Regions from separate parts of the Homo sapiens genome. Here region 2 is linked to region 1. Evidence: fine-mapped expression QTL. A gene starts in region 1. The other region holds a variant in brackets. All regions are shown on one strand. Distances are between the middles of the regions.

Region 1 (16,213 bases):
ATTTTGCATTCTGGAGTAGAGGTTGGCACACTTTTTCTTTCCAGGGTCAGACAGTAAGCATTTCAGTCTTGCTGGCTGTACCATCTCTGTGACAACTACTCACAATATCCTTTGTAGTGTGAAAGCAGCCACAATCAATGGGTAAGCTAGTGCACACAGATGTGGCTGCATTCCAATAAGCTTGCAGACCTCTAGGGGATCATTCTGGAGAAGTTTTATTATCATTACCATTTCTGATTGCTCTTCAGTTAGCAGTGATCCCCAACACCTTAGCTCCACACTGCTCTTCCTCCAGCTTTCCCCTCACAGAGCTGGATTGACTGTCAAAGCTACACAGAAGGGCCTGCAGATCATCGAGTTCAACCCCTCGGTTACAAGCAAGGACACTGGGGAAAGGAGGTATGGCTTGCCCATGACCTGTGGCTGTTTGTGGTCTTCAAACTGAGTTTCCCTGAGTCCCCTTGGAGCCACCTAGGATGGCAGGAAGGGGAGTAGAGGGGGCTGAACCACAGTGAGTCCTCCTCCCACCCTTTGGTAAAATAGCTCAATGCCACCAACCACATGGGGTAAGGGTTAACCTTCCACAGTGTGAGGGTTAAATAAAATCAAGCCTGGAAAATTGTAAACACATAATAAAAGTTAGCTCCCTTTATAGAAAATCTGGAGACTATGGCACTAAATTTAGCTAGAATTTGGTATGTACCTTTTTCTTAGAGGAGATTCGCCTGTTCTTAAAGTGTCAGACTGCACACTATGAGATGCTGACAAAGTAAATAAGACATGGATTCTGCCTCGGAGGGAGCACCATTTTCAGAAAACTACGTTTTAACAAATCATCCCAGGGCAGGCACTCATGAGGTCAGACAGAAAGGGAGCCATGACCTGGGACTTCCAACTCCTATCATTTTCAGGAGACCCTCACCCCAGGCAGTGACCTTGAGAAGTCCTGACCCCCTCCATTTCCTCAAATGCAAATGGAACAACCTGGAGTTCCTTGGCCTCTTTTATCAGCTACTGTAACCAGATGGGGACAGAAGTGGGGGACAGCAAGAGTTTCAAGGTTAAAGATCAATCCCAAACTCCTGGTGGGATTTCAGAATTAACAACCAAACTTGAAAAGTGGAAAAGCCTGTTATCATCTTTAATTCAAAAAGCATTTACAAGATGTCAGAGGAACGGGAAACAAAGCACTTAATGAATATCTTGGAGTGTTTCTTCTAGGCTGGTTGCCTGGGTTTCATTTCTGTGACTCAAAATCTCCTTTGCTCCTCCTTTTCATTTTACTGGTCACTAGTGTCATGGGGAAGCAGCCTCCTGGAGGGTTCAGGGCTCACAGTATCTGTTTTCACAGCCCTAGCGATGTGGAGAGCAGAAGTTGGAGAGCAGGGGAAGAACACCCTAGACCAAGAAGAATGCCAGTCAGTCAGTCAGCCAGCACGCCTGGCTAAGCATCTGCTTGTATATGGGCTGTGTAAGACACCAAGAGCATGAAGCCCATTCCCTGCCCTGGCAGAATGTACAAACTAGTTACAAGCTCTGATGTCTTCAAAATATTTGGAGATTAATTATTTCTGCACATTTTTCTTAGGGCTGAGTTTAAGTGAATGGATTCAAAGAATTCAGGGATTTAGAACCTGAGAACAGATAATGTTCTGAATATTACCCAATGGTAACATGGGACTAGGAATATAGTTCGCTGTATTTTAAGAGACTGCCGTCTTTAGAAGACAATCTATAGAGATTGCCCTGTTCAGATAGAGAGAGCCTATCTGAACAAGAAATCCAGAGACAGTAATGGACAGAGGTCATGGATTCAAGAGCTGGGTGTGCACATAATTGATGTTCAAGGACTTTAGGAACGAGAGGAGAACTGGGGGCACCCTCATTGGCATCTGCTTCAAACACTCATTGACATCTGCCTCCATGGACTAACTGGTACATGATGTACCAGTATACGGAATTGGCTTAAAGGGACAGCCAGCCGGTCCTCGTTAGCAGGATCCCCTGGAGCCTCTCATTTGTTAGAGATGGCATAATATCCATCTGTACTAGCAAGGTCTATAATTTGGTGCTGGCTGGGAAAGGTGGTGTGCAAGCAAAATGTCATTCATTATATGCAGAAATGTTCACAGAAATTCTGCTAGACTAGACTCAAATTCTAGATCTATAATAATTTGCAGCAGGCCTTAAAAGGGCCACTTTATCACTCTAAACCTCAGTTTCCTAATCTGTCTAATGGGAATAATTTCCGCCTTACGGACTACACTGTCAGTTTGAAGTTTGAATGAAATAGACGGTGGCCTCCAGGAGGGGCCCCTCTATCTGTTGTGCTGAGATTGACTCAGCCCTGGCTCAGCGATCCTCAGAAAAAAAGTGAAAATACAGGTTGAGTATCCCTAATCCAAGCCTCTAAAATCTGAAATGCTTCAAAATCCAGAACTTTTTGAATGCCAATATCATGCTCAAAGGAAATGCTAATTGGAGCATTTTGGATTTCAGATTTTTGGATTATAGATGCTCAATTGGTAAGTATAAGGCAAATATTCCAAAATAAAAAAAAAATCCCAAATCCAAAACACTTCTGGTGTTAAGCATTTTGGATAAGGGATACTTAACTTGCATCAACTCATTTCATAACTACAACACCACTTTAAGGTCCGTAGTTTTATTATCCCCATTATATGGGGATTAAGCACACGGCTTGGCACAGAATAGACACTCACCAAATATTTTTTGACAGATAACCCAATGATTGGTATGGAAATAAATAGCACATATTCATAAAGAGTTTTAGGAATGTAAGGCATTATCTAGCAGACGGAATAAACTTGGACCCAGGGGCCAGAAGACCTGCTGTTTTTGCCTATATGGCCTTGGGCAAGTCTCTCAACCTCTCTTCTATAAAATGAGGTGGTTCTTCAAGTTCTAAAAGTCTGATTTCTAAACAAAAACAACCAACATGGTCTTATTAATTTACAACATAATTAATTCAGAGTGGTGACTAAACTGGTCATGGTATAAACTAGTTTGTATTTGTTCATTCACAAAATAATAATAAAAAAGGTTTGTTAAGCAAATAAGATGGTAGAAATGTTAAGCCTATTTAAGATACATATGTTTTCAAGCAATTTAAAAAGCATAGAAGGAGCACATTGGCATATTAACGGGGTGTTAATTACAAAAGAATCTTTTAAAGCAGGTTTTCTAAAATCCCCACTGAGTAACCATTAGCTTGTGGTACTTGAAACACAAACTGTTCACATGTGTTACTTAGAAGTAATAAAATTGTAATTTAAAAGTAATCTGCCAACTTGTCACGAATTTAGACTGATTTTTCTCTCAATTGATCCAAATGAGTGAGGTTTTGCTATAATTATATATAATGCTGGTAATAATGAGGCTGATTATCAATCTTTCCCTGCTTTTCACTACCTCCATCATTACAGATTTTAGGGGAGGGGGGCGGGGGTGGAGGAAGATGGGAGGAGTGGGAGCGAGGGGAGGAGGGGGGTGGAGGAGAGGGAGAGAGGCAGGGATGCCACTCTCTCCCTCCCCCTTCCTTCAAGCACCGGAAGCAACCCCAGCTCCCACCCTGAGCAGCTCATCAGCCCTTCTCTGGGGGCTACATGAATCCAGGTGGAACTGCCCTGTGCGGCTTCGAAAGGCTAGCCAGCTGGTCCGAACTGGGGTTGCGTGAAGCATGCAGCAGCGTCAACCCATCAGCTAATGCATGCTTTCATTCTCACATTCCCACTGAGAGGCTGAGAGGCCTGAGCCTCTGGGGGCAGAAGGAGGGCCTCTTCTACATGCTCTCCACTCTCCAACACATTCCTTGATTTTTCCCCACTGAGGAAGCCAGAAAGGGCTTCCATAGCAGAGAAGGTTTCCTTCCCATCAGAAGAAAGCTTCTCTCTGCTCCCCATTCACTGGAAATTTAATGTCTAACATCTTGTTTTCTACATCGGTTAAAATGTAAAGCTTTGCACCAGTAAAACAGTTATAAAATACCTTCCCATTCCATCTCAGGGTGATTGTGCAGCCTAAATGTTTATAGGAAAGTCCCCTTGAATATGCTGATAATAATTCAAATATAAGAAATGCATATTAGCTAATCCCTGGTGTCTGAGTGGCTGTTATGTGGAAAGAGGAGGGAGAAGAAGATTAGGCTGGGCTGGGAGCCCTGAGGAAGGGAACCCAAACTAGGGGTTGAATTGTGAAGAGATAGAGTCAAGATGTGGAGTGTTCTAGTGAGAAAGGCCAGGGTCAAAATCCTGGGAGAGGCCAAGTATTGAATTGGGAAGGGGCAGGAAGGTCTGTGCTGGGTAACTGCTGTAAGAATTTACAGAGTAGTACAGTATAGTACATGGTAGAGCTGGGATTAAAATCCAGATCTGCTGCTTTTCCTCATATTCAAATGCCACTTTTATCATTTATTAGCCAAGTTCCCTTTGGCAAATTATTAATTTCTCTGTCCCCCAGTTTTTACATCTGTATAATGGGGGTAATAAAACTACCGACCTTAAAGTGGTGTTTTAGTTATGAAACGAGTTGATACAGGTTAAGTATCTCTTATCCAAAATGCTTAGCACCAGAAGTGTTTTGGATTTAGGATTTTTTTTTATTTTGGAATATTTGCATTATACTTACCAATTGAGCATCTATAATCCAGAAATCTGAAATCCAAAATGCTCCAACGAGCATTTCCTTTGAGCATCATTTTGGCATTCAAAAAGTTCTGGATTTTGAAGCATTTCAGATTTTAGATGCTTGGATTAGGGATACTCAACCTGTATTTTCACTTTTTTCTGAGGATCACTGAGCCAGGGCTGAGTCAATCTCATGAGAGCCACCAAAGCCCATGCATTCTAGAAAATTAACTTCATTCCCTGGGCCTCTGTGTCTTCTACTTTTAAAAAGAGGAGAAAACACCAGCTTCCTCTGGGAGCCCCTGGCACACCCGCGATCCAATGCTGGTGGCTAAGTTCTCTGCAGACCTAGAAGCTTCATAATGAGGGGAAGGAAGAGGTGGGGCATTTAGATTCTCTTTGCACAATTTCTTCCCCCAGTTGCTATTCAGCTCTCTATCTCTTGGTGAGATTGTAAATGTTTTAGAAAATAGTTTATACGAAATATGTTCCTTCCTAAATCTCATAAACAGTTACTCCTTTCCACATAAACCTTAACCACTTATGCCCATGATAGGTTCCAATTAGCCACCCACATATCTGTGGAGGGGAAAAATATGTTCTAGCATATACACACATGTGCACACGCACACATACAAGCAGGTCCAACTCAACCCCTTCTCTATGGCTATTTTCAAGTGAAAGCAACTATTCTACATGAATGGTCAGGGTCAGTTGGACAGGACTCTTGCAAATAAGTATGTACCCAAGGGAAGCCACCAATTAATTCTGCAGAGATCACCGTTGCTCTTAACCTATCCCATGGCTTATTCCTCAATGGCCAGTCCACTGGGTCTGCAACAACCAGTCAGTGCTGAGGCTGCATATCTGAGGTTGTATTGGAGCACCGGGAGCTCCCTGGGGGTGTGCTGCTGCCCCTGGCTTTGCAGAGCAACTGTGTCACTCACAGAAGCTGTGAGAGGCAGCTCAGCAGTGTGAACTCTGGGAGCTAGTCTGCCTGGGTTCAATCCCTGGCTGTGCCATTTTCTAGCTATAAGACCTTAAGCAAGTTATTTCACCTCTCAATTCCTCTGTTTCTTTGTCTCTAAAAGGAGTACGAGAACAATGGTAACAGTACCTACTCCTAGGGTTGTTATGAGGATTACATGAGCCGAGGCTGGTAAAGTGCTTACAATAGTAGCGAGCATTAGTGTTACAGTGTGTTTGTTAAATGAAATGAGAGAAGTCCTCTCTCTCCCTGATCTCCTTCTCACCCTGAGGATTACTGCACAATTGGATGGGGGGGATTACAGGCTTTGTTTTGCCATCTTCTAAGAGGCAGCAACTGTCTCATCCCAGAAAAACAAACCTATTACTGAGCAGCTGGCAAACCCTGGACTTGGCAGAGAAGGAGAAGAGAAGGTTTCTCTCATCATTACATGGTAGGGCCCAAAGCTGGGAGATTGGGCACCTTTGTGGAGCCACCACGTAGCCACCACACTTTGGCCAGTTTGAGCAATCTGTTGCTCACTGATCAGATGATGCTCTGACATCTGGTAAGCATGGTCCCAGACACAAATCTCAGGTGTTATTTCCAAAAGGTGACTTTGCTTCCCTGGAGATTCTTATACAAATCATGGGGCCCTCTGTAATTCCATGTGCTAATATGTAACAGGGCAGGGGGTTATACACCAAGTATTTTAATAAGTGCCGTGCAACTTGCTGCACTGTGGCAGGGGAGGTTAGAGGCCAAAGGTGACGTCCACTCTAATCCTGCTTTCCCCTGTGCCTGCTTGTGAGTCCTCTGTCCCTCTCCCTCATCACAGAAAGTTCTCAAACAGACCTCCCTGCAGACGGGGGCAGAGTCCTTTGGCTCAGCATTTAGGCCTCCTCTTAACTGGCACATGCCAACAAAATGGAAAACCTCAACAGAACTAAACAAAATAATTCTTCTCCTCCCTCAAGAATGACAAAGAAAAGTAGCTTTACAGGAGACATGTAGACAACCTACATGACCCTTTCCCCTCAAGTTCCCTATACTATACTGAACTATTTCCTTCCATAGCTGAACCATTGTGTTTACTTCTATCTGAAATCTAATTACGCTAAATATCAGAGCCCCCACAATTATGAAAATCTATGCCAGCAAAATATGAGGGTCTTTGTGGATTTAATTTTATTTTCCCAGATTCCTTATTTATTATTTTACAATAATGTCTGATTTTTAACTATTTTGCATGTTAGTCTCTGAGTAAAATAGAGGGGAAGAAAATATTGTATTAGGTAGCAAATATATGGACAACACTATAGCAGCTGTTTTTCACATGCTAACTCATTTAATTTTCACAATACTCTAAGGATGAGATTATAAATCCCATTTTAGAGAGAAAGGTGCTAAGGCTCAGAGAGGTTCACTAGCTTGCCTAAGGTCACACAGCTACTAGGTGAAAAATTGGGAACCAAACTCAGCACACTACCTCTTCCTGCCTCCTCTTCCTCCTGGTGCTCTTTTCACTATATTAAAGCAACAATATTATAAATTTGAGTAAGGGCTTTTCTGGAAGTGTTCTGCAGCTCAGCCCCATATAAATTTGGACTAGTCCCTGCCTTCTTTTGAGCCTCAGTTTACACATCTATAAGATGAGAGCCTAAGATGCTGTTTCAGGTCCTTAGGATGCTAACATTCCAAGATTCCAGCCCCCATGGAATTTTAACTAGATCTTCTTTCTCTGGCTCTTACTTTAGTTCTCTCCCTAAATCCTTCTAGCTTCAACCCTTTTATTCACCCCAACTGTCTCCAAGGGTCTCTTTGGCATTAATGAAGCCACAGTCTCACAGACCTTGGGGGGCCCACGAATCTGGCTGAAAATGAGCATGCACCTCTTACAAATGAACTAAGATGTAAAGGAAAAAGCAATTCTCAGCTCTGAATGGGACTGAGGTGGGAATTGAGGAGGCTTTTCACATCTGGAGCCCAACCATAGACTAGAGATCAAATGCCCAGGTCACAGCATTGGCCACCGCTCTCACTCTGTCATCAGACTGGCCCAAAGAACTTGAACATCACCTCGGGAACATTTCCATGGCCCTCACCCCAAGTCCAAGTACAACCTACGTTTGCTATTACACACATCATGCAGTATTATAATGTGCCTGTGTAACAAGCCTGCCCCAGTCCCAAAGGGCAGAGACTGTGTCTCATTCATATTTGTATTCCCAGTGCCCAACACCATGCCTGCCTCATAAAAACTACCCTGAATGAATGTGCAAACTCCCAGGTCTAACACCTCCTGGTGACAGAGATCACTTCTACCTTGCAGTGTGTCACCATGCCTCCCAGGGGGTTCTGCCCAGCCAAGTTAGGCAAGCTTTAGTCCCAAGCCTTCAGATGAATTGGTCCACGGAGGAAGTCTGGAGAGCAGGGACTTTTCAATTTTCAAAACCTTATAAGAATTTCTGCTGTCTTGCCTGCCAGAATCTTTCTTTGGCTCCCAGCAACATAAGCTGCATGCCTCCAACTGACAAGCGACAGGCCAGTTGGTCAGCTGTTGCTTCCATTTACTCAGAGCTGGGCGGCTGTACTGTTTCTGTCACTAAATCAAGGGATCCTTGGGACGGATGTGCTTGGGCGTTAAGGCAGCCTGAGGACCTAGTCTCCGGAAGCTTCTGTGAAGTGTGACTGGGCTGCCCTGCCTGGCACGGTGACTTGAATCTTCAGTTTGCCAATTCTCTAAGAGCCCCAACCCCCCATCCCCAGATCTCTACCCCCAGAGTGGAAGTGATTGCAGCAACTCTTGCAGTAGAATTGGGGGCAGCAGCAGGGGAGGAGAGAAGAGGCTATTAGCAAATCAAAGGAAAGAAAACAGGGGAAGGAAAACACAGTAGCAAATTAAAGCACTATGTTTTCTTTTTAAAAATCCAATTAAAGGGAAATCTGCTTTTGAGTAAAACAATCATGCCCTTGTTACAAAGTATCCCAGGAACCCTCAAGATAGGCAAAACCTTTTTAATCACATTTTTTCTCATTACAAGTTGGCTAATAGGAACATCATAGTAATTCCCCGTTAACTCTTCCACTTTTCACACCCGCACAAACACACTGGGTTATAACAATGCTCTTATTCTATCTTTGTCTCAGACACATTCTCAAGCATGTTGGTTTACTCTCTCCTTAGAATATCCCCGTATCCTCATTCTGATATGCAAACGTATCCTCACCTACAGACCATTCTTTCCTCCTCTCCTCTCTCATGCACGCGTGCACACACACGCTGAAACGCTATATACACACTATATATGCATATAAACATATATGTTCTCCTTTTAATTCAATACTAATCCAGTCATTCGTATTTCCCAATTTCTTCTCAGTCTCTCATACAGGTCCACGCAGTGAAGCCCAAGGGAGATACTTACCTCCATAGCCTGCGGGAAACTTCATGAAGTGAGAATAATTTCCATACATGTTTACTCGTCAGTTCATGTTCCTCTCCTGTGCAGCTTCTAAATATTACCGCCTCTCTCGGCTCCCAGGCACAGCCCGGCTTTCTTCAACTTGGGCTAACAAGAGTGGTCATCGCTTCCTAGCAGCCCGGGGAGCACAGGCTGGGCCAGCCCTCTGGGATTAGTCAGGAATCTGCCTCTAGATCGGAGAGTCCACATAGTGCGTTTGAGACGGCTGTGGCGGCAGCAGCTGGTGCCTGTCAGTAATCACGCATAATGCTGCCGCCGCCGCCGCCGCCGCCGTCACCGCTACTCTTGCCACCGCCGTCGCTGCTGCTTGAGATCCTGTTGCTAGTTTGATTAACTCAGGGTTGGGCTGCTGCGTGCGACTCTTCCAGCTCCCGGCGCGTCCCCAGAGGTCCCTACCGGGTGGCACGATCTATTATCTAGGAAGCCAATCGATGTATGACCGCCCGGTGTAGGTCAGGAGAGAGGCGGGAGACGGCAGGGGATGGAAGACTCTTTAGGTGCCTGTTCCTTGACTTACATCCACAAAAATCAATGGGATTTTATTAAAATGCATTTTCTCATTCGAACTTCTATCTGTCCAATGTACTTGGTATTTGATCTGTGAAAGGAGGAGGGGGTGGGGTTCAAGAGAGAACAGGGCCCTTTCAGAAGCACAAGATTAGAAAAGCGTGATACTCAATCTCCAGCTACGGAAAACTAAAATAGAGTAGCCCTTAAGTTGAGGTGGGCCTCTCCTGCTTGGGTGGCCGGAAGCATTTATCTGTGCTCTAACAATGGGAGTTTGACAAGTGCAGCTGGAGCCAGAGCTCACTCAGGTGGAAAACTTACAGGTAGGGAGGAGGGGTTGGCTTGATGTGGAGGTCTTTCTCTGCATTTATTTTATATACCATTGTTATCCTGCCGCCTGTTCAAAAACACCACTGGGTCCTCACTAACACAGAGCCTGTCTTGTGTGGAACTGACCCGAGATCAAAGAATCTAAGCACCCCGTTGATGTTTGGGTCTGTCATACAGTTTTCGTGACAAGTCACCGCTCAGCCTATACTTGAACACCTCCAATAATGGGGAGCTCACCACTTTCTCATTCCATTTCTAGATAGTTTTCACCACAAGAAAGTTTCTTATAGAGATAAAATCTGCTCCTTTTCCCTACAGCTTCTGCCCACAGGTGCTAGACTGCTCCCAGGGGCCACACAAGAGAAGCCTGAAAGACAAAAAAGTCTTTCACAGTGGGATCCTCTGCAAATCCTGAGATTGATCTGCTGTGCCCATAATCCCCCTTTCCCTAGGCATCTCTGGCTCTTTCAGTAATTCTATGTATCACCAAGGGTTCATGTCTATTCCCAACCTATCCTTTTTCTAATAATGTACTTCAGTTTACATAGATACCCTCACAGTGAGGAAGGGGGTTGGCCAGACTTGGATGCAATACTCCAGATATGGTCCAAACCTTTTCCTCATGGTATATGTGTTGGCACGGTGATGGGGTGCTGTCAACATACCCATTGAAGGTCCGTTTCATGGGCTGAGCTCTGTTGGGCTGGAAAAAAGATAAGAGATTTTCTCCTGATGCAGCATAAGACATAGAGAGCCAGAGAGGTAAGTCAAATCAGGGTCCCAGAGTAAAAAATCAAGATTCAAATGCTAGGAGAAGCCAAAACAAAAACGTAGAATAAAAGACCAGAGTCAGGAACAAAGTCATGATGACAAAGGAGGAGGCCAAAATGGGGAATCAAAGCAAAAGCATGTCACAAAGGAGGAAGAAATATCCAGGCCTTCACTGTAAAGAGCTTTGGAGAGCCCAGAGCTGCCTTGACTGTTGCTGGGATGAGAGTCCAGTGGACATAAGTAATATAGAATACAGGAGGACCATTTGCTCACTTGCATTAGGTGGGCAGCTCTGCATGTTAATTCATGTAGAACTAACTCGATAAAAATCTCCCCACCCCTACCTCCCCTAAGTTGTGTTCTCTTATGCATATTCTTCATCCCATCCTTGGGCAATTGGTTTTGGGACCTACATGAAATGCTTCCTATATTCCTCTGAAGTTAAAACTTTTTGGCTTCATTCATCATCCCAAATCTTTTAGGATCCTGCTTCTGTTGTCCAAAATATTTCTTATTCATACCCTTATTTCATGACTTCTGAAAATCTGATGAACTGCTTTTTCATATCTTATTCGACTCATTGATAAAAATGTTGACATAGACATAGCAAAGACAACATCTTATATCACTAAAAAGTCCATTCATTAGTGCCTTAGACACTTTGCTCTGCTACTCACTAGTTATATGGCCTTGAAAGGCTATATGTATAGTAAAAGCACCAACTCACCAACTCACAAGCCAACATTGCTGGGTACAAATCCCTGTTCCGCTGCTTACAGCCTCATGATACTGGCAAATGAGTAAATCTCCCTGAGCCTCAGTTACCTTATAGGGTTACCATGAGGATTAAATGAGTCAATACATGTTAAGCACTTGAAATACGCCAGATAAATACTAAATGCTCGATACATGTAATCTAATTTGAGGCAAATGATGGGGAGGAGGAGGAGGTCAAAGAGGAAGAGGATGTAACCTTAAGCAAGTCACTTTATGGCTCCTCTCCTTTTTCTCATTTGTAAAATGATGGAGCAGAGCTACATGGGTTCCAATATCATCTTCAGCTTTAAAACTGAACGCAGACTAATGCATCACCCATTCCATAATTGTCCATTTTCTCCATAGTGGTATCTGAAGCAAGTGTCTTACAATCTACAGTTTTCTATTGTACGCATGTCAGAGAAGGAAATGAGTTACTTAAACTGTTTTTTTGTGTGTGTGTGAACCCATGTTTCAAGGGTTTTTCCAAGTACTCAAGTACTCAAAAACCATTCTTTAAAAATCACAGTCTACAGACTTGTCCAAGGTCATTGTCAAGATGATCTGTTGGTTAAGCCACCAACAGATAGACTCTTTCTTCACCTTTTTCTAAGTTCAGTACATTGTCTATTTCTTTTCCTCACAGAAGAAAAACCAAATCCTAACCTGGCATGGAAAAGGCTCACCATTTGTGGGGTGTCTCGGCCTATCATGTGAGCTCTATGTAGAGGAAAGTGCTTTGGGGCAGTAATCACAAGGCTTGGGATACACACTCTCTGGGAAAAACATCCATGCTGCCAGCCTCACTAAGGTTTCTGGATTTAGTTTTGATTTTGTGGATCAGATGTGTTGAGAGTTGGGCACGTGCTCATTTTTACACTGCGAAGTTCTATACAATGGCTTTGTAAAACAAATGCAAAGAATTAATATTTTCCTGATTTTCTTTCCTCCCTTTCTCTGAGAGTTCCTTCTGATCTGGCTGTTTTGCCCACTGTAGGGGTACGGTATGTTCATTCCAACTTCCGGTTTGATATAGTTTGGATGTTTTTCCTCTCCAAATCTCATGTTGAAATGTGATCCCTAATGGTGGAGGTGGAGCCTAGTGGGAGGTATTGGATCATGGGGTGGATCCCTCATGAATGTCTTAGTGCCATCCTTTTGGTGATGCGTGAGTTCTTGCTCAGTTAGCTCTCAGGGGATCTGGTTGTTTAAGAGTTTGGGACCTCCCCCTCCACTCTCTTGACCCCTCTCTCACCATGTGACACACCAGCTCTCCCTTTGCCTTCCACCATGATTGAAAGCCTCATGGGCTTCACCAGGAGCTGAACAGACACTGACACCATGCTTTTTTTTAACAGCTTGCAGAACTGTCAGCCAATTAAACCTTTTCTCTCTATAAATTACCCAGCCTCAGGTATTTCTTTATAACAACACTAAAAGGACTAACACGTAGTTCATTGTTCATGCCCATTTACTTTTTCTCATCACTAAAATTCTTACCTATCATTCAAGTTCCAGCTCATTTCCCACCATGAAAACACTTATCCAAAAAGATGTCTCCCTAACCTAGGTCTGATAAAACTTATTGTCCAGTGTGTTCAGGTGACACTTAGTATGTATGGCCTTGTGGCATCCCCAGTGAAATGGCAAGGAATGGTTATTTATCTTTCCTTTGAATATGTCTTATCTTCATAACATGATTGTTAACTCTTCAAATATAGTGATAATGTATTATGTCTCTTTGTTTTCTCACCTAAGTGCTAAAACACACAGTAGGTGCTCAACAAATATTTCTGTATCAAAAATGCTTGACATAGTCAAATACATCAAAAACAATATACCAAACGGTACCCCAGTATGCTTTTCTTATGATACCTTCCATATGGCTTAATACCCCATAACAAACCATAAGCTCTGCCTAAAGATCAACAAATATGAATGTGGTTTTTTCTTTTTAACCCACTTTTTTTTTTCTTGGCACCATTGTGTCTTCCCTAAGACCATTATTGGTATAACAACGTTATCCTAAGTGGCTGGTATTTCTAACATAAGCCCTTCCCAAACAGCTCCACTGACTTCAGTCACAACTGTGTCTCCAGCTGTTACTGAATTCTCATTAGGATGTCAAGTGAAAGACCAAATGCTCAAAGTCTACAGTAGGAATTAGCTAATTCATTCACAAGAATTCTTGGCCTACTTCTTGTCAAGGCTAGTTAACTAGTCCTCTTAAATAATATGTTCTACTTTTACTAAAGCCATTAGTGCCTTTGAATAAGTGGAAAGAGCATGGATTTTGACTAGTATGTTTGGCTGTTTGACACAAATTCGGCCAATAATATCTAATATTCACCCTGGTAATCAAAGGATATAGCTTTACGTCTGCTCTTTTTTTCTCTTTTGACCCGTGGTGATATAAAATAGTATTTTGCAGCAAATACAAATGAAAAACCAAACTCATTCATTTGACAATGGCCAATAAACTTTAGCTATAGAATTTAGATGCAAATATCTCCATACTAATATTATGTATTAATATTTTTATATTTTTATAATACCTTACCTACATAATAGTACATTAAGTTTCCATGTGCTATCCCCAATACTAGACTTAAATAGGGCAGGCTTTGTTACCCCAGTTTTACAAATGGGCAATTTGAGATTAAGACTATGAAATCAGAGAATGAAAGACAGTTACTCTAACAAATTGGGTTTTGGATCTGGTCTCACAACTAGGTAGTGAAAGAAATGGGTGTAAAAGCCAGGTCCCCAACTCTGCTGTCTAGTAAATGTGTCTTTCGTGAAATCACAATCCTTCTCTCATTAGTGATATGTTTCCTATCTATGTTTGTGTTACTGCGGATGGGGTTTCTCTATACATAGTTTTTTTTTTTTTTCTCGTTGCTGTTAATCACTTATTCACTTATCATTCAGCTAGCACTTACTGAGAGCTTATTATCTGACAACCAGCAGGAATATACTAAGGGGAAAGATAGATATAGTCCCTTATGCATCCCAATAGAGGAGATGAATATTAAACAAATATTCGTAGACAAATATATACCAGCATAAACCATGATAAGAACTATGAAGGAAAATAATTGGATGAGATGAAAGACTATAGCAGGGAAATCTCATTTAAATTGGGAGGTCAGAGCAGACTTCTTTGAGAAAATGGCAGTTACACTCAGATCTAAAGGCTGAGTAGGATCCAATCTGGGGAAGAAAGCAGGAGGATGAGGAGAGGGTGGACCAGAAAGAGAGAACAATAGGTCTAACAGCCCTGAGGAGGGACTGAAGTCAGTGCATCCGAGAAGCTGGGGGGTAAGAATGTTCAGATCTCCCATGTGAGGTGGTCTGGCCATCTAACATGAGCCATCTGACACAGTCGGGCCATCTAACATGGGAGATCTGAACCATCTAACATGGGAGGTCTAACCATGGTCTGGCCATCTAACATGGGAGCTCTGAACATTCTTATCCCCTGCCCCGCCTGCAGTGAGTTCCGCTGTTTCATTGTCTCACCTATGATTTTTTGCTTGACATGCCCATGTCAACTTTGGGCTCTGTGCTGCCAGAAAACCATCCTTCCTGGCTTTGCCTCACCTTCACTTGCTGGTCAGATCAATGACTCGCCATTTTTCTATGACACTCCCCAGTAACTCACCACTCTCGTGTCTCTCAATATGTTCCTTCTTATATGATTATCATGACTGCACCTGAAAAACCCTCTTACTAGATGACTAGCAACTGAATCCAAGTCATTTTTGTAGCTCCAAAAGCCTTTAACGCCAGAACCTAACTCATAGTAGAAACCCAGTAAATACATGATGAATGAATGAATAAAAGTTTGTTGATTATGCTGAGATATCCTGATGTCAACTCCAGGTCACTGGGCATAAGGAAATGAGTGTTCCCATTCCTATGTTCCAATAGTTTTTAACAGCCCAATTTTCATTTTCATGAGCTCCTTTTTCCTGGAAGCAGACTCCTATGTGGACAGGTTCAATGCTGGCGCTAGTGCGGTACATCAGTCTTGATGACTAAGACCCACTGACGATGGAAATGAGGCACCTAAATCAGAAAGATTGATGATTAGCTTTAAATTAGAACAGTTTCGTCTATGATCCAAAACAGGACCATTTCCAAAAGGCCTGTCCAAAAACACAAATTAAATCTAAAATGTGTCACACACGGCTTAGGAACCAACAATAAGTTTGCATCATAGCTAATTGATCAAGTCACTGGTGAAACCAACTGACTGAGTTTGCCTTAAGGAAACGATTCCCAAATTTATCTGCAAGTTGAAATCATCCAGGAAGCTTAAAAAATTACTCATACCCATGTTCACCTCCAGAGATTATTCAATTAATGTGGGATTGTGGTCTGGGTTTTGGAACTACCAAAAGAACCCCAGTGATTCTAATGTGCAGATGAGTTTGTGAACCATTGACTTGCAGCAAGAGAACATTCTCATAACAAGCTAAGAAAAGCCCAACAGCAGAAAATGAGAAACTGTTTCCCTGGATAATTCCAGGGAACTAATAAGATCCACTTTACCCATCTGCTAGTACACACAATTGGGGCTTATGAGTCCAAGAAGCTCTTGCTTAGCGGGAGATATGGTGGCTATGGCCATCTGCTGTGTAGACGTAGAATATACTGACTTGAGGTTTCCTGGCACTGTGTCCTCAGCATAGCATGCTCCCACAACACTGCCTCTGCTATCAAAATCTTGCTCATTAAAGGCCAGT
Region 2 (16,213 bases), 23 kb after region 1:
GAACTACCACGTGGCCTAACAATTCCTCTTCCAGAAATATACCCAAAGGAAATGAAATCATTGCCTCATAAAGAGGTCTGCACCCTCATGTTCACTGAAGCCAAGCCATATTCACAATAACATATTCACAATAGCCAAGATATGGAAACAACTTAAGTGTCCTTTGATAGAAAAATGGATAAAAAACTCTAGTACATATATAGAATGGAATACTATTCATCCCTAAAAAAGAATGAGCTCTTGCCTTTTGCCACAACATGAATGCCTCTGGAAGACATTATGCTAAGTGAAATAAGCCAGACAGAGAAAGAAAAATATTACATGACCTCACTTATATGTGGAATCTAAAAAAAAAATTCACATATACAGAGATAACAAAACAGTGGTTACCAGAGGTGGGGTGCAAGTAGGGCAGATGGGGGAGATGCAACAGATATATAGGATGACACACCTAGAGATCTAGTGTGCAACATGAGGACTGTAGGTAATAAAATTGTACTGCATATAGGACTCATGCTAAATAAGTAGATTTTAGCTGATCTGGCCACAAAAAAATGGGTTACTATGTGAGATGATGAATATAGTAATTTGTTTTACTATAGAAACATTTTACTATCTCTATGTATCCTATAACATCGTGTTCTGTGCCTTAAATATACACAACAAAATGCATTAAAAATAAAAAAGCCTGGACCAGAAAACCAACATTTTATGAGCATCCCTGGATACAGCCCCTCAGAGGCCCACTCACCTGAATTACATGAGACATCTCATCCCATCAATGACTCAAACTCTTCAGTTGCCCCTCCTCCTCCTCCTCTCTTCTATACTCCCTCCCACCCCTGATCATTTAATTACCTGCTTTTCAAGTCCCTCAGAAGTCACCGAAAAGACATACCATCAATATTTTTGGATTATTACGGCCTGTCTTGGTCCTCCTCTATCCTGCTAATTTTCTGACCTTTATAAAGTGTATGCCCAGTGAAATTAGAAGACCTGGGTTCAAATCCTGACTCAGCTATTTACAACACATAGGAAATTGTATTAGTCCATTTTCATGCTGCTGATAAAGACATACCTGAGACTGGGCAATTTACAAAATAAAGAGGTTTAATGGACTTACAGTTCCAAGTGGCTAGGAAGGCCTCACAATCATGGTGGAAGGCAAGGAGGAGCAAGTCACATCTTAGATGGATGGCAGCAGGCAAAGAGAGGGCCTGTGCAGGGAAACTCCCATTTTTAAAGCCATCAGATCTCACAAGACTTATTCACTATCACGAGAACAGCACAGGAAAGACCCACCCCTAGGGTTCAATTACCTTCCACCAGGAATTACAATTCAAGATGAGATCTGGGTAGGGACATAGCCAAACCATATCAGAAATATACTTATCCTCTCTGAGCTTTCATGCTCTCATCTATGAAATATGGATGATAGCTATGAAAATCAGATTGAAAAACGTACAAAAATACATGACACCATGATCAATACATAGTAGGTGCTCAATAAATATAAGGAAGGTCTACAGCTATTCTTATTTTGAGAGGACAGTTCAACCCTAAAACCAGTCCGTGGAGTTAACCAAGACATCCACTGGATCCTTTTGATTTTTCCCAAGCAGAATCTTCGGCAGCTTAACCCCCAAGGGGTCAGGCTGATAGGGATAACTTACACAAGCCATGGCTGTCAACAGTCTGCAGTTATCTGGACCTGTCATCAATCTTAACAACAGCAGGGGGTGGTAAGCATTGAGCCAGCTCTACATGCTGTGGAGCAGTAGAATGGTCCTTTTTGTTAAGGATTTGTATTTTCCGATAGGTTCTATAAATATGGTTTAATGAACTACCATTTGCCAGGTACTGTGCTGGTCCAGAGGATGAAAGAAGTTGAAGAAATGGTTCCTGCTCTCCGGAGTGCACAGCCTAATGAATAATTTTGATATGGAAATCTGTGTTATGTGACACTGTTCTTTCATAGCTGCCCTCTCTTCCCCTTCCCAGCTACCCTTGAAGGGGTTGTTTAAGCAACCCTCATGCCCACCTTCTACTTCCTTCTCAACCCACACAGCCTGGCCTCTACATCCTTCACTCTAATAGGACCACTCTTTCCAAGGTTATAAAAAAATCCCTTTGCTTCAAACTTGAATAAATCTTATCTATGTTTATTTGCAAGCGTGACATCACTCAACACAACTGACTATTCCCTTCCTTTCCTGAAGCAGGCTCACTTGGCCTTCCTGGCACAAGTCTCTTCAGATCCAAGTGTCAAGGGGCCCACTAGACATTCACACTTGGATATCTCATAATCTTCTCACACCTAACCTTACCCAACTAAACTCACGATGTTCCCTCCAAACCTGGTTTTTCCAGGGTCTGCTATTCCCAGATGGTATCTCGACCCAACCAGGTTACTCAGGCCGGAAATCTAAGAGTCATTCATGAATCCACTTCCCCCTAACTCCTTATTTCTCATTTGATGCTGTGACTTTTCTCTATCTCTGATGTATTCACTTTATCCTATCATCTTCTTTTGCCTAGACTTCTGTAAAAACTTCCTAACTTCTTTCCCTGTTTCTGCTGCTAAGACCTCCATTCCATTAGCCACAAAATAACCAAAACGGTATTTATAAATCACAAATTTGATCATATTACTCCCATGCTTAAAGTCCTTTAATGATTTATCATTGCACTGAGAAATAAATTCTCTTCCTGTAACTTAATCTTCGAGGTTCCCATGACCCAGCCCCTGGCTATTTTTTCTCAACTCTAACCTCATATACTCTTGCCCTGATCACTGCATCATAGCCACACAAGCCTCCTTTCAGTGCCTAGAACACACCATCCTCTCTCCTATTCTAGAGCCTTTGAACATGCTATGCTCTCTGATTAGAAGGCTCTTACACCCACTCTTCCGGGCAACTCCAAGCCACCTTAAACCTCAGTATAAATGTCACCTCCTCAGAAAAGTTATCCCAAGTCTGCTATACTCCCTCACAAAGCCTTGTTATTTCTCTTTGTAATTTTATCAGAGTTTTATATTTACTGATTCTGTTATATATATAACATAACATATCTTGTTGTGTGTACTCCTAATACTATAAATAGCATTAGGGCAGAAACTTTGTGACCTTAATTGTCTTCTATTTAGTAAAGAAGTCTCGTAAGAAAACAGGACTATATACCCATAAAGGAAATTTGTGCTGGCTTCAGAAATTAATCAACTTACTCTTTCATTCAAAAAATATAAATAGACTTCTAAGGATCACTAGATATTTGAGAAAAATCACCATCACAAATAAATGTAGATTAACAAATAAAACACTGACCACAGGGGAAACCAAATAGAAGTGAACTTTTAAAATATTTCTAACTAGTGTGCTCAGAGATTCAAAGAAATATTACATCCATAAAACAAAAATTGGTGCTGTAAAAATAAAACATTCAAAGAGCAAACCAGAGTTATTGCACATTAAAGATGGAGTTGCTAAAGAAAAAGATCAATAGAACAACTAGACGACAAATTCAAGAAAATCCTCCAGACCCACAGATTAAAAGGACATAGGGACGGAAAATATTAGAGAAAAGTTAAGCAACATAGAGAATCAATGCCGTAGATGAACTATCCATTCAATGAGAGTTCCAGAAAATGAGTGCAGAGTAAATGGAAGGGAGAAAATAATTTAAAAAAGAAAGAAGAACAAGCAAATGCCTAGAGCTTACAAAAAAAAAATTACGAACTGGGTCCACATTTAAATATATCCCCTGGTAAAGTTTAGAAACACCAAGGATAAAAAATATCCGAAAAGTTTCTAAGAGAGGAAAAAATTAAGTTCATCACCTACAAAGCAACAAGTATCAGACCATCATTACTAAAACTATATGCTAGAAGTCAATGATCAAAGAAAAAATCATCTTAAATCTAGAATTCTAGCCAAACCAATTAAGGAGATGGGAGTAGATGAGTTTATAGAAATGCAAAGACCCAGAAAGTTAACCTCTAATGCACCCTTGTGTAAAGATCATTTGAAAGCATACTCTAACCAAGCGAAACAGACATCTAAGAGGAGAACTTGGGATCCAAAAAAAGTGGAAGTAAACCAGAGGGAAATGAATTGATATCCTATAGTAGCAATTCTCTGGAGGGCCGCCTAGAAAGTAACCAAGAAAATTAGAAAAGAGAACAGAGCTGTTTGAGAAAAATGTCTTCAAGAGTCAAGAAAATTTCCTATAGCAAGTAACTGGAATAAGAAGCTAGATGACCTCAATGATAAGGTGAAATAATAACATTATTTTGTAAGCAAGAAGAAAGAAAAACAGTTAAGAATACCAGGAAAATTAACAAAGAGCTAAAAAGAAAATCATGGAATCATGGTCTAAATATACAAAAATGGAAATATAACAGAATTCTGAGCATGAGTAGAATGTATGAAAACAGAACACATCTGACATTGATTCTGAGAGCATCCCCCTCTCGAATAAAAGAGATTTAACAACATAGAATTCATCCTCTCTCTGTGTCTAATTGCACTACTTGGTTCTGAAGAGAATACTAATTACATAATCATAATGTAAATACTGATTGATTTCCAACTTATAAAATCAACATATAAACAAAACACAAAGACTTAATGGTAATTACAGAACAGAATTTAAATATTTTCAACCTAAACAATGTAAAAGTGACAGAACAGCTAACAGGTTGTGGAGAAAGGGTGAATTTCTTATTTCATAGTGCAGAATTAGGAAATACTGTCTGAAGTTGAGATATCGAGAAAGATAGTCTTTCAAAATATAAATTAAATATATTATTTAAAATCACATAGGCAACAAAAATAAAGCAAAAGGAAAATTAGGAGGCTACTATAAACAAGTTATAAATTCTTCCTCCTCTACAGTAAAAAAATCAATAAACACTGTTTAAAGTCGAAAAACCAAGAAAAAGCAATATAAGCATTTAGGCAATTAAAGTTTGGACATAACCACCAGAAGAGCTAGAAACAGAAAAGGTTAAACCTAGAGACAGGTGACGGGGGGAAAGCGACATTTTAACTCTTGTTTTATATTGTTCTATATGGCTCAGGTACTTATGTCTCTGTGCATATATTACTCTAATTAACTAAATAGTGAGTGAAGAATATGCAAATGTAAATAAACAGAAGTTCTGGGCCAAGGGACTCAGCTACAGAGCTCTCTGAGGGAAAGGTTGTTTGAACAGAAAAGCCGTAGAGTAAGGAGCAACCTCCAGGAGCTCCCTCCCGTGAGCACCCCTCCAGGTGTTACAGAGCATAGGCCTAAAGGGCTGTAGTTGGCCACAGGCTCAAGAGGAGCCAATCATTTTAAGTGGTCTAAACTAGAGACTCTGCAGCAAGGAGAGCTGGGTGAAGGTCATATGACTTAGTGGTCAAAATTATAGACTTTGCAACACTCGGCCTTATCTGGACTGTCACTTACTAGCTATGTGACCTCAGGCAAGTGAGGAAAATAATTATACCCATCCTTGAGGGGTCTGATGTGGCTTAAATGAGCTCATTTGTGTTAAGCATGTAGAACAAAGCATAAGATGAGTGTTAGCTATTATTACCATTATAAAGAATACAAATTGCAGCTTAAGGAGGAGCCTAAGGACAACAATGAATGTGTTGGCAATTCTGTTCAGTGATGATTCCCCGTAGCTTTTCCCCTCCTTAACTATTAGAGAGACAACTTGATTTTAGCTTGGGAAAAGAGAATGCCACTTTTGGGAACAACAACTATTAATACTAATACTACTAATAAATGCTAACATTTATTGAGCATTGACCAAATGCCAGGAAGTGTGCAAAACACTTTACATAGATTATCTCATTCCATCCTCACCACCATCAGGTGAGACAGGCTTTATTATCTCCATTTTGTAGAAGAGAAAACAGAGGAATTATTATGTTGAACCATGTGAAAATGCTGTTATTCAACCATTTTTTTTTTACCTATGAACAATAGCAATTTGGAATAATTTAATTTTAGAAGCAAGTAGCCCAAGTCAGTTCTTAGCAGAACCCAGTTTCAAGCCTGTGTCCTGATATATTTCATGCTGTTGAAAACACTTCTGCAAGGATGACTGGGGAGGGCACCCAGGACAATGAACTAAGCTGTATGGAAGAAGAGAAGATACAGGAAACACAGGGAAAGTAACTTGGACTTTTTTGTGTCATGTGAAAGAGGCATTAGGCCAGATGTGGTGGCTCATGTCTGTAATCCCAGCATTTTGGGAGGCCAAGGTGGGTGAATCACCTGAGTTCAGGAGGTCGAGACCAACCTGACTAACATGGTGAAACCCTGTCTCTACTAAAAATACAAAAATTAGCCAGGTATGGTGGCAGGCGCCTGTAATCCCAGTTACTTGGGAGGCTGAGACAGGAGAATCACTGGAACCCAGCGGGTGGAAGTTGCAGTGAGCCAAGATCACGCCACACTCCACACCAGCCTGGGCGACAGAGCGAGACTCTATCTTTAAAAAAAGAAAAGAAAAGAAAGGGGCATTAAAATCATTCTAAAATATTCTAATAGAGCCACAAGGTTAAATCCAAGTTTGTAGGACCTGATGCCATCAATTTGAAGGCTCCTCTTTTTCAAAAAAATTAATAAGTACATATGTAAAATTGGATATTTTCTGAATCATCTCTTAATGTGATCTTATACGTCCTTAGTCACTATGGGTGCTCTCCTCAGAAACTGCAAGGCTGTAGGCAGCCTTGCAGATGGGTTTTTATGAAATGCTTCAGGAAGCAGAGAGTGAAGGCATTGGAGGCTGCACACTTGTCAGAGTTAGGGAGAGCATTCCCGCATTGCACCCATGCAGAGACAGGGACAAACCCCATTCCATCTGGCAGCCTGGACCTGCTACAGCTGAGACGGTGGGCCTCAGGGGGACTCTATTGTTTTAATATGCAGTGCATCTCTCTTGAAAAGTCAGTGCCTGCTGAAAGGTCCCTTTACTCATCAGTGGGTTCAATCAGTGTTTTCTTACCCTAACCCCATCTTACCTGCCTAGCCTCCCTTTCTCCACACCCTCCTTCTTCTTTCATCACCTCTCAATACATCTCTGCTCCCCGAACACTTAAGCAGAGACTCAGGCTTCCTCTTCTTGTTACTTTCAGAAAATTCCGTAGGTGGAAAGAAATTTAATCGGTAATAATAATGCTTTCTATTTTTAGAGCTTCTGCCTTCTGAGCAACCCGAAGAATGCCACAGCTATAACAAAATCGGTTAAAGGGTTGAAAGGGTCTTCTAAAAGTCTTCTAGAAAAGTCTCCTGCAGTGAGGCAAAACTTCCCCGAAACCCACTTTGGGCAGGTGGTAGCCTCTCTTAATCTGACCCTAGAATCAAAATCAGCTCCATGCCTGGTACTCTCAAGCTCCAGGAACTCTCCCCATCCCAGGCAGGCCCCTTCTTTGCATCCCCTGCTTTAATTCATCTTTCCCTGAAATGAGTGCAACAAACTCTTAGTGTTCTCCCAGCCTTTAGCCTCTTCTCTAACAACCTCTACCTACCAATACAATGAACTTTCTCAAACACAGCTCTGATCATCAGACTTGGAATGCATAAATGGATATGCAAAGTGTCATGGGGACACAAGGGGGATGGG[G/C]GTTAAGAGAAAGTGTCGAAAGTTGAGATTCAAAAGATAGTAGGAGGTCACCAAAAAGGGTGGCAAGGAGGAGATATGGCAGGCAAAGGGTACAGCCAATACAAAGGATTGAGTCTTAAAGAACATGGATGTTTGAGGCACAGTAAGTAATGCACAGTGGAGTGGGGAGGGAAGCAGAGAGGAGCCAGCAGAAGAGAGGGTGGAAAGGAGTGAGGGGTCAGAGAGGAAGCCAAATCTTTTCTCTGGTGGCAGTAGAATAGTGGGGTGGTAGGAGCCACTGTGGAGCCTTGGGCAGAGTTCAGCTGAAAGACCCTGATCCCCAGAAGAATAGACATGTATCAGAGAGGAAGGCACTAAAGGAAAACATAACAATATTGCTGTTTCACCCATTACCTGGGCTCCAAATTCCTTAAACTGTCTACCCCACCCCCATATACATACACACACATTTGCACACACTTCCCCTTCTAGAAAATGTAAATGATCCTAGTTACCTATTGCAGTTTCTGAACTGCAAGGTAGTATAGAGAGTCTTAGATCTGGAGTTAAAGGGCCTGGTTTCAAACCTGTTCATATGCATTTGGCCTCACTGCTGTGCTTCGTCTTCTTTAGCACTAAAATGCAGTAGTGACACCTCCTTCCTGGAGTAGTTGAGACTATTGTTGGAAATATATATGAAATACCTAGGACAGGTCCTGGTACATAGGAAGTCTTCAGTCAATGCAATTTTAATGTAAATTTTGTTTTCTTTAAGATCATCTCTACAATACCCCAAGAGTTCCATGCCCCCTAAGCCTTTAGGTAGAAGCTATCTTTGACAGGCAAGGGACATATGTAGGCTCTAGCTAATTGCACTGCCGATGCTGCTCCAGCAAGGCTTTGCTTGGATTTTTCTGGCATGGAGTTGAGATAGGGCTAACACGTATAGAGAGCTAGGCTAATGGGGAACCCTGGGGGGTGTATTCATGTGCGCACACACACACACATGTGCATATGTAGGTACTGCTCATGCTGAAGGGAGGAGGGAAAGAGGGTTGGATAAAGCAAATGAACGCAAAAAAGTGGAGCAAAATCCAGCTGTGCAAAAGAGGGTTAAAGTAGATGAAAGCCTGGAGAGGGGATCAGCGCCCAGCTTGCGTAGTCCTCATTGTCACCTGGGTGGGCACACATGGACACTGCAGAAGGGGACTGCCCACACCCTCTCAGTGGAATCTCCCAGTTGGGCCACTCAAGTTCAAAAGGACTCCTTCCCTCAGTGCACTCTCTCCAAGCTGAAGACATTCTCCAGGGCTTAGGGCTGGGGGTTGGGCGGAAGGGAGGATAACTCCACCAGCATTCAGCGACCCGCCAATAGTTTCCAGGGCTTCCTCTGAGGAAAGGTTCTCTGAGCACATGCTTTTCCGTGACATCACTGTCAGTGACCTTTGGGGTCCAGTAGGGTGGAGTCTGAAGGGAAGGGGACAGGCCACAATTCTTTGGTCACCACAAAGGTTGGGATTGTGAGCCGCCCAGAGCTGGATAGCCGCCTCAATGAGGACAATGTCTCTTGCTGGACTGGGAATGGCTTCCCTGCCGGAGGATACTGCAGGACTATAGTGGACCTGTTGTTTTTGCTTTTTTTCTATATTAAAAAGCACATTGTTGAGCACAGAGGTCATGTGTGCGCGTGTGTGTGTGTGTGTGTGTGTGTAGAAGCGTAAAGAGTCTTGGAAAATTGAATTTTGCTTTTAGAACAAGAGATGATGATGTGGAGCAGAAAACTTACAGCCTAGCTCATAGAAAGAAGTGCATTTTTGCTTTTTGGAAGCCTGGAGAATGAAGGAAGGAGGGGAGAAAGGAGAGGAGGAGGGGAAGACTTTTGCTGGTATTTCAATAACACCAAGCAGCACTGAAAGAGATCAATATGCCCAATGAGTCCAAAGCTGATTACAGTCGAGCAAACACAGTCAACTGCCCTGTGTTCACTTAAAGTAATAGCCTTAAACACTTGGAGGAAGTAACTCAATTACCTTATTGATTTGGGATTTCAGCCACCGCCCCCATCATACAACACACATGAATACCACCACAGACCCATACATATTATTTGTTTTTGTTTTGTTTCTTTTTAAAAACTAATGTGACTGGCATGACCTGCTCCATTAGCTTGGAAAATAAATAAAATGATATCTGTTTTTCATATGCACATTAATCACTCAAGTCACCACCTGCCCAAAATGAAGGATGGCCAGTTTCACATCTCTTGGGATCTCCTCCCCCAAAACTGAAGAGCCCCAGGTGCTCACTTAGCCCAAATTGGTTAGTGTAAGGAAATAATTGAGAAATCTGATCAGTTCAGCAGCCCCCTCCTCCCACACTCCCATTTCCTGCTGTCATCTCTTGTAGCCCCTGCCACATGGGGCTGCTGATGAAACCACACAGCCCCACACAGATTGATATCTTGTCACTGCTGGGCCCATGCCTGGCTAGCCTAGACCCCTACATGGACAACAGTGTTTCTTGAGGGAGGACGATCCTGCTGCGTTAGTGTTCACCCACGCACTCATCTATTTACATTCATGTAAGGTCCGGCTGTTCCAAAGCCAGGTCCTCAAAATAGGGGGGCCTCCAATGACAGCCAGAAGCAGTCCTCCCTGGAGATTTCTCCACCGGAGGCTCCTGAGACATTCTCCTACTAACAGACCTCCGCCAGGGCCAGCAAAATCATCACAACTTATGCCACTGACTTGCAAAAGCTCAGCAGGGACTGGAAAATGTCTCAGACCCTATTGAATCCAATGTCCTTGTTTTACATATGAGGAAAATGAGGCCCAGCTGACTCAAGTGACACATACAGAGCCACACTATGACCCTGGAGAATGCTACCTTCCCAGGGGTGGGGGTGAGGTGCCAGTGAGGCCAGCAACTCTTGGTTCCACACCTGGAAAACATCAGGAGGTATATGTGGAAAGGTGGCCCTTCAGTTACCCCAACCCCATTCTCCCCAATGCCACACTTGTGCAAATGCCTGGCCACAGAGAAGTCCCACATGTCGGCCTCTGCACCGAATGCCCCACATCACAGAACCCTTAGTTCTGGGCAAACTGGGACAGTTGGTTACCCTAGACTCTGCTCTAGTGATTAGCCTCCTCTTGTGCCATAGTTTCAAACTCTCCCTCTCAACGGGCTCTTCTCTATAAGCTTGAACCTTTCCCGCATTTAAATTGTAAAAGTCCCTTCATCTAACATTTCTCTCTCCACACTCGTCACCTCACCATTCTCCTCCACTCTGCTTTTGCCTTTCCCGTCTCTCTTCTCTTCTGTCCTTTCCCATTTTTCCTCTCTCAAGTGTAAAATAAAGTCCTGCATGTGCGCCCGTGTACACACACACACACACACACACACACACACACACACACAAACTCATGTTCATCTCCCTTGTGCAGTATACTGGGTGAGAAAGGTCGCAGCTCTAGTAGCTTCTTTGGTGGCCACGTGGCAGTGTGCTGAACCTGGAAAGACTCCAGGAGTGGCAAGGCCTGGTGCTACCTAAGTACTGGGAAGGCAAGGGCTGGGTGGCAGGAAGGAGGACGAGACCAGGCTAGTCTTCCAGAAATGCCCCAGCCCCTGCAGCTCCTCTCCCTGTCAGGTGGAAACAGCCGAGATTCATCCTCATGGCCTGGGGATTCCAGGCATCCAGCTGCGGAGGCAGAGGAGACCCCCAAACCAGCTCAGTAGGTATGAGCGGCATTTGTTCTGCTGCTTCAGATGAAAAGGTCACCAGCACTTGTCTCCACCCTCCACCCCCACTGCCTGTCTTCCTCTTTCTGAAGAAAAGGTTTTTATGTTGTAGAAGCTCCTTCTTGACGTGTGCACGCTCCACCCTTCATGTCCTCACAGGAGCTGTCTGAGTGGTTTACAGGAGACCCTTTATCTTCCTGACACCCAGGCTGACAATGTGCTATATACTGAGGAAAGAGAAGGGAATGTCACCAAAAATTATTGAACACCGACTAAGTGTCAGGCATCATTCTACAAGGTAAGGATACAGTGGTGATTAAGACTGAGGTGTTCCCTGCTCTCATGGAGCTGACATTCTAATGGGAAAACAAAATATACAGGTAGACATACATAGTAATTATAGATTGTAGAAGTGCTAAGAAGGAAAATAACAGGGCATTATGGTACAGGACAACACAAGGGACTTCCTTGGGGGTAGAAGGAATTTCTCAGATGCTTTCTGAGTAAAAAGCATTTAAACTAAGGCCTGAACAGTGGGACTGGAGAAGACACAATTTGGGGTGGAATTTAAAGGCATGCTCATACAGCCCTATAATGTCTGTGTTATCGTCACCCACAATTTATGTGTCAAGGAATCAAGGATCTCAGAGATGAGGTCATGTGCCCGGCGGCATGGTTTAAGCCAATGTGATCAATACCAAAGCTAGGCTTTCTTTGTTACCTTCCCTTGCTTGGGGAATCTATGCTTGCATTCTGAATACTAAAAAGCATCTGGGGGCCGGGCATGGTGGCTCACACCTGTAATCCAGCATTTGGGAGGCTCAGGCAGGTGGATCACTTGAAGTCAGAAGTTTGAGACCAGCATGGCCAACATGGCCTCTACCGTTTTGGTAGACAACACCCTGTCTCTACCAAAAAAATACAAAAACTTTCTGGACATAGTGGCATGCACCTGTAGTCCCAGCCACTTGGGAGGCTGAGGTGGGAGAATCACTTGAACCCAGGAGGCAGAGGTTGCAGTGAGCAGAGATCACACCACTGTCCTCCAGCCTGAGTGTCAGAGTGAGACCCTGTCTCAAAAAAAAAAAAAAAAAGAGGCATCTGGGAAGCTTTTGCAATCTGGGTGTGCAGACTTCAGCTAACCCTTTGAGATCAGCATCCAGTCTTGGTAAAATGTAAGTACTGAGCACCCACTACATGCCCATGGCTGACCAATAGCGTTCTTGAAAAACAAGCCAAGGGCATAAGCAAGAGCTCAGAGATGGAGTATGAAAGGGGTACAAGGCAAGGAAGATCCTGAAGGTCAGAGTCCCTGAGCAGGGCAGCGCCACAAGGACAGAGCCAGGCCAGGCAGAGAGGAGGGGGTGCAGACTCAAGCTGGGGACTCTGTGAGTTCAGGCAAGAAGCTGTCTCTTCCAGAATACAGCTGAGGACCACAGAGAGGGACTGGAAAAGCTGCCCCACCTTTCCATGACCCAGTACAACCATGAGAAAGTAGAGGAATTGATCCAGTTCCCTGGATCAGTCCATCCATCAACATTTTCTGAATATTTAGCTCATAGGTCTCAAGTACTGCATGTAGTATGGTGAGAAATTCAAAGAGCACAGAACCATGATCTCAACCCTGCAGGAGCTGAAAACCTCCTTGAAAAGACATGTTCCTGCTTCTGAAACAACCGAACAGCACTTCGACTTGCAGCTGGTGGCACAGCCAGGTGGGCCTGGAGAATAGGGCTTCCTAAAGGAAGCAGACCCAGTGTGCATTAAGTTTTAAAGGTGGGGAAAGATCCAGATTGGCAGAGAGGTGGCAGAGTGGACATGTCATGTAAAGGACATGCCACTTAAAAGAGCACAGAGAGGCTGGGTGCAGTAATCCTGCGTTCATACCTGCAATCCCAGCACTCTGGGTGGCCAAGGTGGGTGGATCACAAGGTCAGGAGTTCGAGACCAGCCTGACCAACATGGTGAAACCCCATCTCTACTAAAAATACAAAAATTAGCCAGGCGTGGTGGCACGCACCTCTAGTCCCAGCTACTTGGGAGGCTGAGGCGGGAGAATCGCTTGAATCAGGGAGGTGGAGGTTGCAGTGAACTGAGATCGCGCCATTGTACTCCAGCCTGGGCGACAGAGTGAGACTCCATCCCAAAAAAAACAAAAAATAAAAATAGCACAGAGAAAGGCTAGCTGGAGGAGGGGCAGTGAGATCATAAGAGATGGGGAGGACCCAGCAGATTCTGGGCAAGGAAGTGACTTACTTAAGGTTCCTGAGTCACAGAATGAAAGCAATGCTTTCAAAATTATAATAGTAATTCTTTGCTTGCATGTAACATCTAGCTCAATGTTTCTGATCATTCCACATATATTATTTCACTGGAGTCTCACAACCACCCACTGAGGGAGAAAGTTATCATTGCATTTTATAGCTGAGGAAATGGACGGGAGAAGTAAAGTGACTTGCCTAAGGTCATGCATGTCAGGGAAGGAGCTGAGACTGGAACCCAGTCCATCAATCTGTGCAAAGGGGAATGCAGTACCATGAAAAGGGCACAGATTTGGAAACCAGACAGATCTTCATTTTAGTGCCACTCCTGCTGGTGACTAATAAGCCTGGGACAGGTTATTTAACCTCTCTGAGTCTCAGTGTTCTAATTTTCAAATCAGTGATGATAAACCTTAGAGAGATGCAGGTTTATTGTGAGGTGAAAGAATGATGGCTCCTGGCACAGAAAAGAATCCTACAAATATTCGTTTTCCTCCTCTTGTTCCACTGCTCCCCATTCAGGTCCTGAACAAACTAAGGAATTGGCCCAACATCCCCCTACCTCCCAGTTGTGCCGATGAAGCTCTGGGACAAGTGGTTCACCCTCACAACCAAGCAGCACTGATCTGGCTTTTGCAAAACCACGGCCCCATCCCATGTATGCAAGGGCTGTGCTGATGGCCAGACACTCAGCCACCCAGCACATCCCCATCTGAGAACATCTAAGTACTGGGAAGGCAAGGGCCTTCCCCACAGTAGTGGGAGAGAACACTGAGCTGTGGAGAGATGGGTGATTTGTGAAGCCACACATCACACTCCACTCTTTCTTGATAGAGCAGGACCAGCTGGCCGGGCATGGTGGCTCATGCCTATAATCCCAGCATTTTGGGAGGCCGAGGCGGGTGGATCATGAGGTTTTTTTGTTTTTGAACAAACAAAACAGAATTTTAAAAAAACAGCCCACACACAAATACTTGTTAGAAATCTCACCCTTGACTTATCACTTGGAATAAAAGCAATCGTTTATCCTGGCAAAGCTCTTTATTCTTTTGAAAACATTTTCATATACATTATTTCACTTGATCCTCAGAACGCCAGAAGGGAGACGGTGCAGGCTTAACTGTTCCCTTTGAACAGATGAAAACTAAATGGCCTAGCAGCTGGAGTGAGGGGGACCCCGAGCTCCCAACCTCCTGCCCATGGTTCTCTCCCTCTCCTGGAGGCTCAGTTCAAAGTCCAGAGTCCATTCACTGGCAAGCTCAACTCTAACATCCAAAATCCTCCCCATCCCACTCAGCTACGGAAACATCAGAGATGCCCTCCTGAGGCTCATGCAACTAGTGGGGTGGAGGTGGCAGTTTCAAAAAGAGACAGCTAACCCTGGGCACATCCTGCAGGTGTGCTAAATTCCCCACTCAGAACAAACGGGGGTCCCTAAGCCCCTACCTGCCCAGGAGCCCTTCCTTCCTGCTCCAATCTCCCATTCCAATCCTCTCTTAACCTGGGATGCTCAGAGACGCAGAAGACCCATTTGGAGTCAGATCCCCTGAGGTCCCTGTTAGGTCTAGCCTTCAACTTCAGCTCGAGGATTTAGGCAAGTCAGTTCACTCCTAGAACCTCAGAGATCCTACATGAAGGCCAGGCTGCTAACCCAGACTACGCGTTGACTCCTAGGTACAGTAGACCTGCTCCATCCAGCAGTATGGAGGGGCCAAGGACAAAAACAGCAAGCAAATATTTAGCTGCAACTACTAAGTGCTCCAGGCACTTAGAGTACATCCATGAACAGGCCTGACAAAGTGCCCTGCCTTCATGTGGCTTATGCTCTAGTGAGGTGAGACAGAAAACAAAGACCAAGTACATTAAAAGGTCCATAGATGATGAGTGCTGCGTGAGAAAAGAGGCACAGGGTAGTGGAGCTGGAGTGTGCTGGGGGAAGGCGGGGAGCTGTGCAGGTTACTATTTTAAATAGGATTGTCAAGAGCTTCATTGAGAGGTTGACATTTGAGCAAAAATTTGAAGGAATGAGGGAGTTGGCATATGGATATCTGGAGGAAAGGCATTCCAAGCAGAGAGTCAGCCAGAGCAAAAGCCCTAAGGAAGAGGGAGGAGGCCAGTGTGGCTGGAACAGAGGACTCAAGGGGGAGAGTTGCAGGAGATGAAGTCAGAGAGTGAACAGAAATCGGGTCCTGAGGTCACAGGGGATCCTGTAGGACATTGTAAGGACTTTAGCTTTTACTCTGAGTGAAATGGGGACATGTGCAGGATCTCACACAGAGGACTGAAATGATCTAAGTTTTAGTAGGATCAGTTGGCTGCCCTCTTGTGAACAGGCTGTAAAGCAGGGTCAAGGGTAAAAGCAAAGAGACCAGCCAGCAGGATGCTGCAGTGTTCCAGGTGTGGGGACCATGGTATCTGAACCAAGGGGCAGCAATGCAGTGCTGAGGAGTGGTCAGTTCTGGCTACATTATAAAAGGAGAGCCAGTGGGATTTCCTGAAAGGTGGGCTGTGGGAGAGGGAAGGGAGAGAGGGAGAAGGAGACAGGATCCAAGTCAGCTCTGAGGAATTGGGCCTGAGCACCTGGAAAAATGGAGATGCCGTCCACTGA

Direction of the effects. Positions count from the first base shown, and alleles are read on the strand shown. Sizes are in standard deviations (SD) of each study's normalised expression.
As copies of G replace C in region 2, the expression in tibial nerve of the gene that starts at base 9,323 in region 1 goes down (small effect, 0.16 SD a copy in GTEx).

Evidence for each region.
Region 2: its variant is fine-mapped to the expression of RXRG in tibial nerve (GTEx, PIP 0.97).

The regions. Positions count from the first base shown.
Region 1 is chr1:165,435,804-165,452,016 of GRCh38, forward strand. RXRG (retinoid X receptor gamma) reads right to left here and starts at 9,323. Exons shown (of 10, transcript NM_006917.5): 1 at 9,042-9,323. The coding sequence starts at 9,090.
Region 2 is chr1:165,458,869-165,475,081 of GRCh38, forward strand. No RefSeq gene overlaps it. Among named protein-coding and RNA genes, the nearest start is that of RXRG, 22 kb to the left of the region's middle. The variant G/C (reference allele first, on the strand shown) is at 7,625.